Linked DNA regions of Homo sapiens: region 2 is linked to region 1. The links come from fine-mapping of genetic effects on gene expression. Tissue or cell type: tibial nerve. Region 1 holds a variant in brackets; the other region holds the start of a gene. All regions are shown on one strand. Distances are between the middles of the regions.

The links. PIP is the estimated chance that this variant, and not a neighbour inherited with it, causes the effect.
Region 2: it holds the start of FAM201A, and the variant in region 1 is fine-mapped to the expression of FAM201A in tibial nerve (GTEx, PIP above 0.99). The same link has a PIP of 0.9 or more in esophagus muscle, fetal neocortex, gastroesophageal junction, left ventricle and lung.

The regions. Positions count from the first base shown.
Region 1 is chr9:38,637,645-38,645,827 of GRCh38, reverse strand. It overlaps the pseudogene YWHABP1. Among named protein-coding and RNA genes, the nearest start is that of FAM201A, 21 kb to the right of the region's middle. RefSeq lists enhancers at 2,263-2,762, 2,763-3,264. The variant C/T (reference allele first, on the strand shown) is at 3,671.
Region 2 is chr9:38,616,305-38,624,487 of GRCh38, reverse strand. It overlaps FAM201A (family with sequence similarity 201 member A), which reads right to left and starts at 3,400. Exons shown (of 2, transcript NR_027294.1): 1 at 3,123-3,400; 2 at 1,204-2,656. ANKRD18A (ankyrin repeat domain 18A) reads left to right here and starts at 3,892. Exons shown (of 16, transcript NM_147195.4): 1 at 3,892-4,408. The coding sequence starts at 4,203. RefSeq lists enhancers at 2,265-2,474, 3,127-3,246.

The sequences.
Region 1 (8,183 bases):
CACGAGGTCAGGAGATCGAGACTATCCTGGTTAACACAGTGAAACACCATCTCTACTAAAAATACAAAAAAAAAAAAAAAAAAAAAAAAAAAAAATTATCCAGGCTTGGTGGTGGGCGCCTGTAGTCCCAGCTACTCGGGAGGCTGAGGCAGGAGAATGGCGTAAACCTGGGAGGTGGAGCTTGCAGTGAGCCGAGATTGCACCACTGCACTCCAGCCTGGGTGACAGAGACTCTGTCTCAAAAAAAAAAAAAAGTGAACAAAAGGCCAGGCACAGTGACTCATGCCTGTAATCCCAGCACTTTGGGAGGCCAAGACGGGGAAGATCACGAGGTCAGGAGTTCAAGACCAGCCTGACCAACATAGTGAAACCCCATCTCTATTATAAATACAAAATATTAGCTGGGCATGGTGGCACGCACCTGTAATCCCAGCTACTCAGGAGGCTGAGGCAGGAGAATGGCCTGAACCCGGGAGGCGGAGCTTGCAGTGAGCCGAGATCTCGCCACTGCACTCCAGCCTGGGCGACAGAGCAAGACTCCATCTCAAAAAAAAAAAAAAAAAAAGATAAATCCCCATCTCTACTAAAAATACAAAAATTAGGTGGCCTTTGGTGTCACGTGCCTGTAATTCCAGCTACTCAGGAGGTTGAGGCGGGAGAATTGCTTGAACCCAGGAGGCAGAGGTTGCAGTGAGCCAAGATTGTGCCACCGCACTCCAGCCTGGGCCGCAGAGGGAGACCCTGTCTCAAAATTAACTAATTAATTAATGAATAAGTAAATAAAATAAAACATAATATAATAATAAATAAAAGCCCCAATCTAGGAAGAACATGAAAACTGAGCACTCCTGAAGTGAAAGGCAATCTCTACAGAACATTCTTCTGTTTTGTTGGAGTCAAGGTCTTGCTATGTTGCCCATGTGGGAGTGCAGTGGCTATTCACAGGGGCAGCCACAGGACACTATGGCCTTAAACTCCCGGGCTCAGGTGATCCTCCTGCCTCAGCCTCCCAAGTATTTGGAACCACAGGCACACACCACCATGCCTGACTCAGAACATTATTCTTAAAGGTATTATCCAGGAATGTGGGGCAAAGGCATGTGGGGGAAGGGACATCTGTGCTATAATGAGACTGGCTAACACTCAGTGAATGCCGTGTATCTGCTGGGGTTCTGAGCACTTTGTATGCATTATCTTATTAAATTCCTCACACCAAAAAAAAAAAAAAGAAGGAGATATTAGCCAGGAAACAGAAAAGAGCATTCATAAAACAGACAGCATTTACAGCACTAGCTCAGTGTTAACAATGAAAAACTATTCCATTATTGAGGCACAAGTTTCAAATCAGTAACATATTCCTATTGCTGTAGGAAGGGGGGTTTAGTCAGGTGTGTCATATGAGCACCAGAACTTTTCAAGGTGTCACAGCCAGTTATCTGTCACAAGGAATTTCAGCTTCAGGATTTGCATTTCCTCAGAGGAAGACGCTGTGGACATTTGTGGTCATGAACTTTTGAGTGGCAATAGCCCAAACAGGTCCAGTGTCTATAAGCTCTGAACAGGCAGCATCACTGTGAATTACCATTAAACTTGAATGCCAAATGATGGTGTCTCACTCCACATCCCAGCATCACGACATAACCTCTGTAACTTTCTGTACAACTTTACAATGAAATTGTATTTCAGTGACTATTTTAATATTGGATTAAACTTTCCAAAGAGTTACATAACATTCAGGTCTATTTTTCTTATCAGTAAGAATTATGCTGAATTACAAAACCCATCACCACAGTGCTCAGCTTTAAGAAAATTAAACACACAGTAATCTTGCCAATGTCAATCAAAACCAAAACTTCAGAATGCCATGGTGTTTATGCAACCAATCTAGGTTTTAGATACAAGTGCCAGCTGTTTATCCCACGAACCATTCTTGCTAGGCTGAGGCTGTGAAAAATCGCAAGACAATGTACAATTCTTTTTTTTTTTTAATCACACAAAGGGATTTACGTGGATGGTACAGGGTGACACTGAACAGATTGTGAGGCATGGCAGACACAGTTCTCTCCCTCCCCAGCATCTCCTGCATCTCCCTGGTTTCCCGATGTCCCCAGAGTGAGATTGTCCCGAAGTCACTGCATGGTGGGAGTGCTGTCTTTATAAGACTCTTCATTCAGTGTATCCAACTCAGCAATTGCTTCATCAAATGCCACGTTTGCCAGGCTGCAGGCCTTTTCAGGAGAGTTTAGAATCCCGTAGCAAAAGACTGAGAAATTAAGTGCCAGGCCCAGTCGAATTGGGTGTGTAGGCTGCATATCTTTCTTACTAATTTCAGATGTTTCCTGGTAAGCCTGCTGGGAGTTCAACAGTGTGGTTTGTTTATTGTCTCCAGACGCCACCCCAGAAAGATACCCGAAACAATCTCCTTTCATTTTCAAGGAGAACGCCTTGCTTTCAGGTTGTGTAGCATGGGGAATAAGAGACTTGTCCAACAGCTCCGGAACCTCATTGCAGATGTCCAGCAGCTCTGCCTCTGTCTTCCATGGTACTCTTTGCCCATCTGCTGCTTCTCATTCCTCCTGTTCTCTGCTCAGTGCTGGAGATGAGAATCCAGGAAGAACAGTGGGCCCCACCGTATTCTTGTAGGCGGCAGAGGGCAGATTGCTGTCTTCAGCTGGGGGCGCATGCCCCTGTGGCATGGCTGCCTTCCCGGCTGCAGCCACATCATCACCGCGCTCAGCCTGCTCAGCGGGCCTGGCTTTCTGTACCAGCACACTTTTATCCATTGTCAGTTCCAAGCACAGCTCTGAGCTTGGTGACCACTACCTTCCCAAGCTGACTCCTTAGGCCGCTGCAGTGGCTGTGGCAGCGGCAGCTACCCCAGCTCCAAAATCAGCGGTGGCTGCTCCACTTCCCAAAAACAGCCTCTCTTTGATGAGCTACTATCATGTGTTGCCCGCAGCACAGCCCATCTGAAAAACTAAATAAAAATGAGCAGAAACAAATGAGCCCCAAGTTGCCAACTCTCTGGAAAATTCCGAAGACTGCCAGCAGGTGTCACTTCCAGGTGTGAGAAAAATAGAAGTGTCTGGAAAAGGATGGGATGTGGCAACGAGAATGGCGAACTCAAAGGGAACCAGGTGTGCCAGGGCAGCTGGTAGCCACGGCAGGGCGAGGGTGTGGGTGGTTCCTGTGTTCCTCTGAGTCCCTGTCTCACCAATAGGCCACACAGGATGGTCTCCCTCTAAATGTTAATCTCGAGGTGACGAGAGTGGCATTCGGACATCAGAGCACTGATGGTGGGCCATTTCCTGCAAGCCCCACTCACCCCTGCATCTAATAAGCCCCACGGCTCTGGGCTGATGGTCATTCCTAAGTGATCCCAGCTCACTACAGGAAAGGGGCCCACACTCCATCTGTCCTAGAACAGCTGCCACCTCTTGGGCAGCCCAGGCTAGGAACACCCCGCCAGAGTGCGCATGTCTGACCATATCATAGTTTGTCATGGTAGGAATAATTGAACTAGCTTTCCTTGGGCCTTTTTTGGATTTTCAGAAAGATTAGGGCATTCCATCTTTTTATTTCCTCCTTTCCCATTTCTCAAATGTGAAATTCAATTCTCTACCCCCTGCAGTGTGAATTGTATAATGCAAGCCAACAGCCCCATCTAGTG[C/T]ACTCCTCTCCAACTTCTGCAAAATGACTCTGTGGCCAGTCCTCCCAGACAAGGAGAGGTGCCAGATATGTGCTTTTATTGCCCTGTCAATCAGACATAAGAAACATGAGGAGAGACGGGAGGATGGCTTGAGCCAGGGAGGTTGAGGCTGCAGTGAGCCATGATTATGCCACTACACTCCAGCCTGGACGACAGAGTGAGACCTAGTCTGGAAAAAAAAAAAAAAAAAAAGAAGAAAAGAAGCATGAGGACCTAATTCAGTTTTCAGTGTTAGAATAAATAGCATTTATTTTCTGATAAAATTGCACATCACCCTTGAGCTATACCCCATGTACCCTGTTTCCATGGTTAGCACGAATGGTGGTGGACCACACCTGTTCTGTCCTGAGGCACGTCAGGCATTCCCCGGAGCCCCCAGCTCTAGGAGGTGGGTCACAGGGGTCATCACGAGGTCTGCGCTCCGAGAGAGAAAATCCCCCACGGGGAATATCATGATTGACCCCAAATCACCATCGTGCTCAGCTCAGAATGCATTTGAGAGTTCAAGGAGGCACTTTGGGCTAAAGTGAAAGATCCATACTAGAGCCAGATCAAGTCGAAGAGGGATTTTTGTGTCAAGATCCAAGCATGCCTCACCAGGCCTGATGATAGCGCTCTGAAGTTATGTTCACTTTCTTACCTCCGTGCGCTGGCTTTACTTCTCTTCGTCTCTTGGTCAGCTGAATTTCTGTGTTTCCCGAACCACAAGGGAGACCTGGCTTTCCACAGCTCCCGGGTTCCCCGGGGCTCTGTTCTAGGAAGTGAACCCTGGGGCAGGAGTAGGGGAGACAGCTGCAGACAGCACAAAGTTAGGCACTAACTCAGTGCAGAACTCAGCAGAGTGCTAGCCCAGCGTGTTTTCTCTCTCCTTTCACCCCTTAGAGACTCCCACTCCTGGGAACATCACACACCAGGGCCTGTCAGGGGGTGCGGAAAAGGGGAGGGAGAGCATTAGCACAAATACCTAATGCATGTGGGGCTTAAAACCTAGATGACGGGTTGATAGGTGCAGCAAACCACCATGGCACATGTATACCCGTGTATATAACAAACCTGCATGTTCAGCACATGTATCCCAGAACTTAAAGTAAAATCTAAAAATAAAAATAAATAAGTAAAGACCCGCTCGTGCCATAAATGGTTCCTGCAGTCCACAGGCGTGTAAAGTCGGTGTTTCCTCGGTCCTCTCAGCTTCCCTTTCCTCAGTACGGGCTTCGTTTATTCCTAAGGCCTCTGGGCTTCCCCATCAGTGGGGAAGGTGACCGCTCTGATACCAGATCCAATGCCTCCAAGCTCTTGAACCCCCGCAGAAAGGAAAGATGGCCAGAAGCCAAGTGGAAAGCAGGCTTCTTTGGATGCCCTTCATTTTTACCGAAAGCTTGTTTTTAAATAATCTTTCGCATTAATCTGAAAGCATAGACTTATAAAGCATCAGGAGAATCATAGGATTTTTCTTACTTTGAAAACTGAAAACAAGCAACATGCAAAACTGGCCAGTCAGAGGAGGCTTAAAGAAACGAAATACATCCTGGTTACAGACAAAAAGAATTCCCGAAGATCTCTCACTTTCTGATCTGAGGGGAAGGAAAATGAGCCCCTACAGGTGAGAAAGAGGAGGATGAATTCCCTCCTATATTTCTGCTTTCCTTTCTTTATAACCTAAGCAATACTGTGCTGGTGATTCAGTGGTTGCAGCTGGGCAAAGAGCAACAGCTACCAACAAGAAGCACCTACAACTCTGAAGGAAGAAACTCTTCTCTCTTACCTGAGAATCTATGGTTCCAGGAGTTCAGAGTGATTCTTCACTGCTCTTTTTCTCTGTGTGCTTGTACCACATGGCTCTGAACCACAATAGAACTACAGCCCACTGGAGGAATTTGCATATTGAATCTGACCTAGCCGATTGCCATTGAAAACAACAGCAAAAGACATTGTCCTGACGTTTTAAACAAAACCCAGAGTCTCATAAGATAATATCCAAAATATTCAGGATATAATCCAAAATGGTTCAGCATGTAAAGAACAAGGAAAATCTCAACTTGCAAGTGAAAAGACAGTTACACTTCAGAACTAAAAATAAAAACACTGAAATTAAAAATTCACAAGATGATCTCAACAGCAGAATAGAAATGACAAAGGAAAAAGTCCATGAACTTAAAGATAGATCAATAAAAAGTATTCAATATAAGCAACAGAGAGGAAAAACGTTTGAAGAAAAATGAGCATAGCCTTAAGGATCTGTGTAACAATACAATGACACATCTGTGCCATTGGAGTTCTACAGAGAGAAGCATAAGAACAGAGTAAAAAATATATGAAGCCATGCATCTCTTAATGACAGTAATACATTCCGAGACATGTGTCGTTAGGCAATTTCATCACTGTGTGAACCACAGAGTGCACTTCCGCAAACATAGATGATAAAGCCTACTACACACCTACGCTATATGGTATATCCTGTAGCTCCTAGGCCATATGCCTGCATAACATGTTACTATATGGAATACTGCCGGCAATTGTATTACAATGGTAAGTGTTTGTATATCCAAACATATCTAAACAGAGAAAAGGTGTAGTAAAAATATGGTAGAAAAGACAAAAAATGGTACACCTATGTAGGACACTTACCATGAATGGAGCTTGCAGGACTGGAAGTTGCTCTGGGTGAGTCAGTGTGTGAGTGGTGAGTAAATATGAAGGCCTAGGACATTAATGTACACTATTGCTGACTTTATAAACACAGTACACTCAGGCTACACTGAATGTATTTTAATTATTTTCTTTAGGCTGGGTAAAAATTTGACAAAACCATTAATAGAGGTCCCCAAGTATTGGGAAAGTGTTTCAGGAAGTGCAAGCATATGACAGTTAAAATATATGGCACTGTGGACAGGTGCTTAAGATTTTTATGATAAAGTGTAGCAAGTTGCAAGGTATGACCAGTCATTTCATATCTTGCATCTTGATGTCACACCTTGCAGTGGAGTGGAGAGAAAAGTTATTGGGTCAAAAGAGTCGAGGAACCATGAGTCACTTTACAAGAATTATCAGACTGCCCATGGGGAGCAGTGACAAGAAGCCCAGGGCTACAGGAAGGGAGAGGACTATGATGGACATCAGTGGAGTCACGTTGCATGGTGGCATGAGTCTCAAAAGTCAAAGGCGTGTAACAACGGAGAAGCGAGTGGAAGTGGGGAATGCAGATCTGACTGGCCGGGTGTGGTGGCTCACACCTGTAATCTCAGCACTTTGGGAGGCCGAGGTGGGCAGATCACGAGGTCAGGAGATCGAGACCATCCTGGCTAACACGGTGAAATCCCGCCTCTACTAAAAATACAAAAAATCAGCCGGGCGTAGTAATGGGCACCTGTAGTCCCAGCTACTCAGCTGAGGCAGGAGAATGGTGTGAACCTGGGAAGCGGAGCTTTCAGTGAGCCAAGATGGTGCCACTGCACTCCAGCCTAGGAGAAGGGAAAAGGACTCTCTTCCCATAATTCCACGTGACCCAGGTGCCACGAATATATTACCATGTAGGGAAAAATCAATGGCTATGAACACTTTCTTCTTTAAATGTATAATAAAACAATACTTTTTTTTTTTTGAAACAGAATCTCACTCTGTCGCCCAGGCTGGAGTGCAGTGGCACAATCTCAGCTCACTGCAACATCTGCTTTCCAGGTTCAAGCAAGTCTTCTGCCTCAGCTTCCCGAGTAGCTGGGACTACAGGCGCATGCCACCATGCCAGGCTAATTTTTGTATTTTTAGTAGAGATGGGGTTTCACCATATTGGCCAGGCTGGTCTGAAAGTCCTGACCTCATGATCTGCCCACCTTGGCCTCCCAAAGTGCTGGGATTACAGGCATGAGCCACCACGTCTGGCCAAAAATACATTTTCTTTCTTCCCTCTTCTTCCACCCAAAGCCACGAATTTGACTTAAGATACATTTTTTTTCCTTTATATGTTCACATAACTTAAGGAATAGTAAACCAAAGAAGGAAAGAAAGAAACAGAAACTAAGCCAGATAGAAAAATGAGTAACTGGGGTCAGGCTCAGTGGCTCACACCTGTAATCCCAGCACTTTGGGTAGCTGAGGAAAGAGGAACAGTTGAGCCCTAGGCAACGTGGCAAAAACCAATTTCTACAAAAAAAAAAAAAAAAAAAAAAAAAGAAAAAAAATTAGCTGGGTGTGGTGTCACATGACTGTAGTCCCAGCTACTTGGGGGGCTGAGGAGGGATGATTGCTTGAGCACAACAGGTCGAGGCTGCAGTGAGCTGTGATCATGCCATCGCACTCCAGCCTGGGTCACAGAACGAGGCCCTGTCTCAAAACAAAATAAAATGGTGCCGGGCATGGTGGCTCACGCCTGTAATCCCAGCACTTTGGGAGGCCGAGGCGGACAGATCACAAGATCAGGAATCGGAGACCAGCCTAACCAACATGTTGAAACCCCGTCTTACTAAAAATACAAAAA
Region 2 (8,183 bases), 21 kb after region 1:
TTCCTCAACTGATAAAGAACATATACCAAAAGAACATCCTACAGACAATATCATACATAATGTGAAAAATGGGATGTTTTACACAAAAGAAGCAAGGAAATGTTATCCCCTCTCACTGCTCCTATTCAACATCATACTAAAATCCTAGCTAATGCAATAAGACAAGAAAATAAAATAAAAGGTATACAGATTGGAAAGGGAGCATTAAAATGCCCTTTGCTTGCTGATAACTTGATTTTCTATGTAGAGAATCTCAAAGCATCAGCCAAAAACCCTTCTGGATTATAGCAAGGTTGCACGGTATAAGGTTAATATACAAAATCAATTGCTGTCCTACATCCAGCAATGAACAACGAGAATTTGAAATTAAAAGCCCAATACCATTTTCATTAGCATCAAGAAAATGAAATAGACACAATCTAGCAAAATATGGGCAGGGTCTATGTGAGAAAAACTATAAAATCTGTTGAAAGGGATTAAAGATCTAAATAAATGAAGGGACATCTGTATTCACAAAATAAGACCCAGTGTTGTTAAGATGTCAGTTCTCTTCAGTGTGATTTACAAATTCATTACAACTCTCGTGAAAACATGAATAAATTATTGTGTGGAAATTGACAAACTAATTCTAAAGTTTATATAGAAAGACAAACTAACAAGAATAGCCAACAATATTGTGGGGGAGGAACAAAGTTCAAGGACTTGCAAAGTGATCAACGGAACAGAATAGAGAACTCAGAAATAAGAGTGCACAAACACAGTCAATTGATCTTTTACAAAAAGGTAAAGGCAATTCAAGGGAGAAAGGGTAGCTTTTTCAAAAACAGTGATGAATACATTGCGTGTATGTATATATACATATATGCAAAAAAAAAAAGAATTGAGACACAGACCTTGCTCCTCAAAAATTAACTCGAACGACACATTTTTAAGTTAATAATATTTTAAATTGTCAAACCACAATTGCATACATTTATGGGGTACAATGTGATGCTTGGATATGTGTATAAAATGAGGAATGACTACATCGAGGATAAAATATCCATCACCTCATGGCGTGAACCCAGGAGGCGGAGCTTGCAGTGAGCCGAGACCCTGCCACTGCAGTCCGGCCTGGGCGAAAGAGCGAGACTCTGTCTCAAAAAAATAAATAAATAAACAAATAAATAAATAAAATAAAAAATACCCATCACCTCAATTTTATTTTTTGTGGTTAGATATTTGAAATTTACTTTTTGTTATTTAAATATACAGTACATTATTATTGACTATAGTCATCCTGCTGTGCAATAGATTTCAAAACGCATTTCTCCGGTTTAACTGAATCTTTGCATCTGTGAACAACTTCCCATTTTTCTCCCCAGCAACACAGCCTCTGGTAAGCATCATTATACTCTCTACTTTTATGAATTCAATTTTTAGACCTAAATTTAAATCCAAAAGCTGTAAAACTTCTGTAAAATAACAAAAGGGATATTTAGGTAACTTTGGGTTTGGCAATTACTTTGTAGATACAACAGTAAAGTACATAAAAGACAAATTTCTACCATGAAAGAAGATATTGGTATGAAGTCGTTACAATTAAAAACTTTTGCTCTGGGAAAGGAAATAAGAGAATGGAGAAACAAGCCACAGACGGAGAAAATATTTGCAAAACACCTGTCTGGCATCCAGACCATTAAAAACCACTTACAACTCAACAATAAGAAATCGAACAACCCAATTAGTAAATGGACGAAAGATCTAAAGAGGCTCCCATCAGAGATGGCATATAGAAGGGGAAAAGCTTATGAAAAGATGTTTGCCCTCCCAACGCTTTTCCCTCCCTGCGTCCCTCTCCCTCACACACCCTCCGCTGCAGCGGAGTGGGAGCGGGTCAGGGGCGCTAGGCGGTGACGGTGACGGTGACGTGCTGTCTCTCGGGCGAGGCGTGGGATTTAAGCGCATTATAAGCCGTGGGTCCCGGGGAATCCGAGAGGCTGAGCTTGGAGCCCAGACTGACCCGCCTCTCTCATGGTCCCGGCCCACTGCCCTGCAGAGCCCGCCTTACTCTTCCTCTCCACAGGTCTGCTGTGGCTCCACCAAGCCTGGTAGGCCCACAAGGAGCTGCATCCAGCAGGAGCCGCCGCCCGGGAACAAGCTACCCGCGGGCTCTGGGGACAACCGCCCGTCTGATGAGCTCGGCTGAGCGTGCACGCAATGTCGAAATCAAGGACGCCTGGATGCTTTTCATGGCAGAGTGACAAAAGTTTACCAACAAGAAGAGGAGCAGGGCTGCTGAAAGGTGCGGTGCCGCGGCGCCAGAATGCGGGATCCTGAGCCCTGCATGCGAGTCTTCGCGGGGCCGATCGCTGCGAGCCTCGCTTAGGTCCAGCCGCCTCCAGGGAGGGCAATATCCACGAGACGCGGGGAGTGAGGGCGGTGCTGGCCGCACCCCTGGTCCTGGGGCCGCGGGAGCCGTGCTAGCAGGCCGCCTTCCACTGCCGCCTGCGCCGGGTCGGGTTGCTGCAGCGGTGCCCGCTGCAGGAGCTCCGCGCCTGCTGCTTCTCCGACGTCAGGGCGCCGCCAGGATGACAGGTGCAGGAGGCTGCGGCTGTGGGCAGATGTGGTTTCCAGCCCCAGGTCCCGGCGGCCCCTGGCTTCCCAGCCCGCTGTCCTGTGGGCAAGAAGATGAAGAAAGTCACCCCATCAGCAGGTCAGCTGCCCCGCCTGGCAGCCCAGCCAGACAAGGCAACCGAAGTTCATCCTGTCTGAGTTGACTTTGTGCAGGCAGCGGGCCGGCGCCCAGGATGCTGGGGAGCCCTGCGCGCCGGAGGCCGACAAGCCGTGGGGCCCAGAGGCGCCACAGGGCGAGAAGGCACCCGCCTCCCAGCGCTTTCACCCCCCGGCCCGCCCGACCCGCTAGGTGTAGCAGTGGCTGCGGCCAAGCCAGGCATTCTGCCCGGCGGCGGCTGCACAGGGGCGAAAACTGAGAACCCCTGCTCAACCCCATCCGGAGTGACTGCCAAGTGCCCATGCCAGCGACCCCGATCCCCCTCCGGTGGAGGAATGGGCGGGAGGCACGGCCTGGGGGCCCTCAGGCTGGGCGCGCTGGCGATCCCGAGGCCGACCAGGCCATGCACCTCCAGCCCGCCTGGGCACCCAAGCTGCATCCGCCTTCTGTGTGCAGGCAGCAGCCTCCAGGCAACCCCCGAGCCCGCCAGCACTCCCCACATCTCAGAACCGGGGCCAGATGTCCCTGTGGCTGCGGCTGAGCTAGGTGGTCTGCCCTGCAGCGGGAACCGGCTCTCAGCCCCATTCCCCGTGGCTGCAGAGGGCCACTGGCTAGAGGTCCCGAGCTTCAGCAGACGAGGAGCCGAGCAGGGGCAGGGCCTGGCGGGCTCTCAGGCCAGGTGCACTCGCGATCCAGAGGCCGCCTAGGCCGTGCTCCACCACCTGGGCGCCCAAGCTGCAGGCGCCCTCTACCTGCTGGCGACAGCTGCCTGGCAACTCCCAAGATGGCTGGCGCTCCCAGCCTGGCAGAACCGGGGCTACATGTCGCCCTGGCTGCGGCCAAGCCAGGCGGTCTACCCGGCGGCGGCTGCACCGGGACAGGAACCGACCCCCCAGTCCCATCCCCGGTGGCTGCGGAGGGCCCCTGTCAGCGGCCCCGATCTCTCTTCGGAGGAGGAGCGGGTCGGGAGTCAGGGCCAGGCAGGCCCTCAGGCGGGAAGGGATGCACTCCTGGGATTCCGGGACGTCCCGCGGGAGCCCAGGAGAACCCGCAAGCCAGCGACGCGTGCGCCCGTGCTGCAGGTGCCCCCTGCCGGCCACGAGGGCTTGGGAGCGGCTTCCGGAGTCCCGGCTGGCGCTGAGTTGTAGGCGCGCGCCTAACTGGCATCGCGGGGACTCACTCGGTCTGAGAGTTCGGAGCGCTGAGGTTCAGGCGCGCGCCTAACGGCTTAGCTGGGCTCACTCGGTCTGAGAGGTCGGAGTCTGCGAGTGTCGCTGCTGAAGGCTGTGGTGGACCGGGCTGGATCGCGGATTCTGAGCTACATTGCGGGTTTGGGGGTGGATCTTGGATTTGGGGGTGGATCGCGGGTTGCGGGGGGGATCGCGGGTTGCGGGGGAGATCGCGGATTTGGGGCGGAGTGGGGGTGGAAAGGCCACGAGGAGCCGCCGCGGCTCAGGAGCGGGTGGTGGGCGTCTGAGAAGTCGCCACCATGAGGAAGCTCTTCAGCTTCGGGAGACGCCTGGGCCAGGCGCTCCTGAGCTCCATGGACCAAGAGTATGCGGGTCCGGGTTACGACATTCGGGACTGGGAACTGCGGAAGATCCACAGGGCTGCCATCAAGGGCGACGCCGCGGAGGTGGAGCGCTGCCTGACGCGCAGGTTCCGGGACTTGGACGCCCGCGACAGAAAAGACAGGTAGCTCGGGGACTCAGCCCGCGGTGGGAGGGGGCCGCAGGCCCGGCTTCCCTGCAGCCCGGCAGCCCCTGGGGCGGGGACCTTGGAGGGCGCCGGGCACCCTCGGAGCAGCGGAGCCAAATGGAGCCTCAGCTGCTTTCCGTCGCTGGCAATTCCCCGTCCGTCGCGCTTGGTGGAAAATTTGAGTGATTTAACTCACAAAGTTAGGCATATCCACGTTTAAAACATGGGGCCATATACATGATAGGGAGGTGCCTAATGAGAACTCATTCCCCTGTCAAAAATACCATGAGCCTTTTTCAGTAGGCGAAGAGTTCTCAGATAAAACCCTGTGTCGGTTTTACATCCGAATCCACCTAGGTAGACAGGTTCTTTACTGGAGCTTCTTAGAGGGACACTGGGAAGCGCGAGGTGGGTTCCTTGAATGGGAAGACTCAGTTTTCTCAAAATATGAACTGTTTCCATGTTTATCAGTTTTACATAAACTGAATGAAGATATCAAGGTTTTATCATTTTTGCATGACACTTGCTATCTATCTTACCATTGTGATGACATTTAAAAATGTTTATAATGGAGTGAAAAGACTTGCTCCTCTAGATATCAAAATGTGCTATTAATTCCCACAATTAATTATTTACTAACAGCTGAAAACACAGATAAATAAATGGAACAGAACAGGAAATCCAAAAACACTGAAATATATGTAAGATATATACATAGGGATGGATAATGGTAACGTTTCAGATGAGTAGGAAAAGATGAGTTATTAATAAAATGCCTGCTGTGTGAAGAAAACTAATGAAACTTTATGTCGCAAAAATGGGTTCCTGATGGAATTCAGACTGAAATTTTTACACATGCAAAATGAGAAAAAGTACCAGAAGAAAACGCAAAGACTTATTTATACAGGTACATTTTATGTTAACAAAGGCCTTCGTAAGAATGACCTCGCAAGCAGGCATTCTGAAAGTTGATTTAGCAAACTAAAAATTAAAATCCCCTGTGTATCAGAAAAAAATTAACAAAAGATAACACACTCGAAAAATATTTCCTATATATATTTTTACTAATATATAAAAATATATATTCAGATGAAAAGTGTATCTTCATCCTACAGGGAATTTATTCTTTATTATATATAATACATATTACTGATTATATGTATAAGAAATTGTATATATTACTAATATAATGTGTTATATATATATATCAGTTATATATATACAGATAAAAAGCACATCTTTATTTTACAGGGAATTCTTTCCAATCAAATCCACAAGAAAAGAACTCTAGAAGTGAGCAAAGCACTTTTTGCAGATTCACAAGTTACTTATGTACATAGGAAAAAATCCTTAGTGTTTCTCATAAGATAAGTTAAAAGAGGAGTGAGACTGTGTTCTATCCACAGTGTTTGTGAGAATGAAGAGCAGTGGCACTTACACTGCTGCTTGAAGTTTAAGTTGCTGATGACTTTTCAAGTGGATAATTTGGAGATAATTACCACATTTTAAAAATGTATATGCCCTTTACCCATCAATTCCATTGTATTAAAATACCTTCAGAAAATAGAGATACATGCACTTTTTTTCCCCAGCATTTATGTTAACAAGAACCCATAGAATGGTATGTGGCCATTGAAGGTGGCAATAGGTGGAGAAGTATGTTGATATGTGAAGATGCATTTTGTTACAGCCAGTGAGGAAAAACAAATCAGTTTGCTTGCACATACACACAAACATACTATGGTCTGGTGTTAGGCAATACTATGCACAAAATAGGATAAAATTTGTAACTTCTGAGCATTTGTATTTTAAAGTTTTTTGTTCCTTTTTCTTACCTTTGATTTCTGAAGTGAGCATTTATAAAATTTCTAGTAAAAATTTATTATTAATGGAATAAATTTTGGGAAGAGAAATATGACTCTTGAACAGATAAAAATAATTTCTCACTATTTTTTATCATTATTATTGTGAGGGTTTGAACTTTTAGCTTCTTCAGAAGTAAAAAGGGAATCTTTTTATCTGTGCTTGCAGATTTTATGTATATACTTTATTATGTATATATGTTTTTCTTATGTATAGATTCATTACATATAGGCAAACAATGATAGATTAATCATTTCATTATAGTTGTAGTCTTATCAAAATAACAAATAGCAAATATTATTACTATCACAAAAATATTGGTTTATAGAAGTTGTATTTAAAAATATTGAGCTCCCCAACTGTATTCTATCAATCCATTTATTCATCAAACATAACTCGAATATGTTATGTAGCAAACATTTTGCACTATCTCTCAGGACCCTTCCATACTTAAAAACTTTATGTTTACCTGTTCTGCCTGAGCAAGATGAGAGATTTAAAATAGGAATAGTAGAACTTAATCTCACTGAAGCTTTTCCTCCCACCTTTCAAGCAAAAGCCTTTCTGAAGGTAGAAAACAATAAGAGATAACCTTTAACTGCCCTTTTGAAAATTTATCAGTCTTAAATACTAATATTAATCATTGGAAAGTCTGATTTGCATATATTCTGTAAATCTAAGTGTTGACTAAAATGAGCCATACCTGTTCATCTCAATCATGAGTTTCCTTTAGCTTCACGTTTCTTTTTGTTTGTTTGTTTGTTTTTTCGTTTTGCGACAGAGTCTCACTCTGTCGCCTATGCTGGAGTGCAGTGGCGTGATCTCAGCTCACTGCAACCTCTGCTGCCAAGGTTCAAGTGATTATCCTGCCTCAGCCTCCCGAGTAGCTGGGATTACAGGTGCCTGCCACCGCACCCAGCTAATTTTTGTAGTTTTAGTAGAGACAGAGTTTCACTATGTTGGCCAGGCTGGTCCTGAACTCCTGACCTAGAGATCCACCTGCCTCGGCCTCCCAAAGTGCTGGGATCACAGGCGTGAGCCACTGGGCCCGGCCAGCTTCCCATTTTTAAAAATCAAAGTAAGAAGTAATTTGTTTAAAAAATATGTTGTTATTTCAGTGCTCTTTCCCCATGGTACTTTGAGGAATTAAAATGTATTTAAGTGTCAATTAGATTCCTAGAATTGCCCTAGACCTGCTGTGTATACAGTATTCTACTTAATGTAAGACCTCATGGATTGTGTGATACCCTACTATTTTCTATATTAATAAGATGATTTTTAAATGCTACCAATTATAAATGCTACCATATAAAAATTATGAATTATAAATACCACTCCAATATCAGATATGCTAAAATGTGACCTAATCTTTAAATCATCCTGCAAAATAGCAATAATTGTATCATTTTACTTAATTAAAATATTTTTGTTAAATACTAGTAATATAATTATAACATCTGGCTGAGTGCATGGCTCACACCTGTCATTCCAGAACTTTGGAAGGCTGAGGTGGGAAGTTCCCATGATGCTAGGAGTTTGAGACCAGCCTGGGCAACAAGGTGACATTCCTACTCTACAAAAAAAAATTTAAAAATTAGCTGATCATGCTGGTGCACTCCTGTGGTCCCAGCTATTCAGGAGGCTGGGGCAGGAGGTTTGCTTGAGCCTACAAGTGCCAGGCTGCAGTGAGGTATAAATACACCATTGCACTCCAGCCTGGGCAACAGAGCAAGACCGTGTCTCAACAAACAAAAGTCTAACAGTTATTGAGTTGTTGCTTGTTCTGGAAACAGTTCTAAATGCTTTACATAGATTTTCATTTAAGCATCACAGTGGTGTCCTGTGAGCTAGCTGCTGTGGTCATCTTTATTAATGAGGAAATTCAGGCACAGAAAGGCTAAGCAATAGC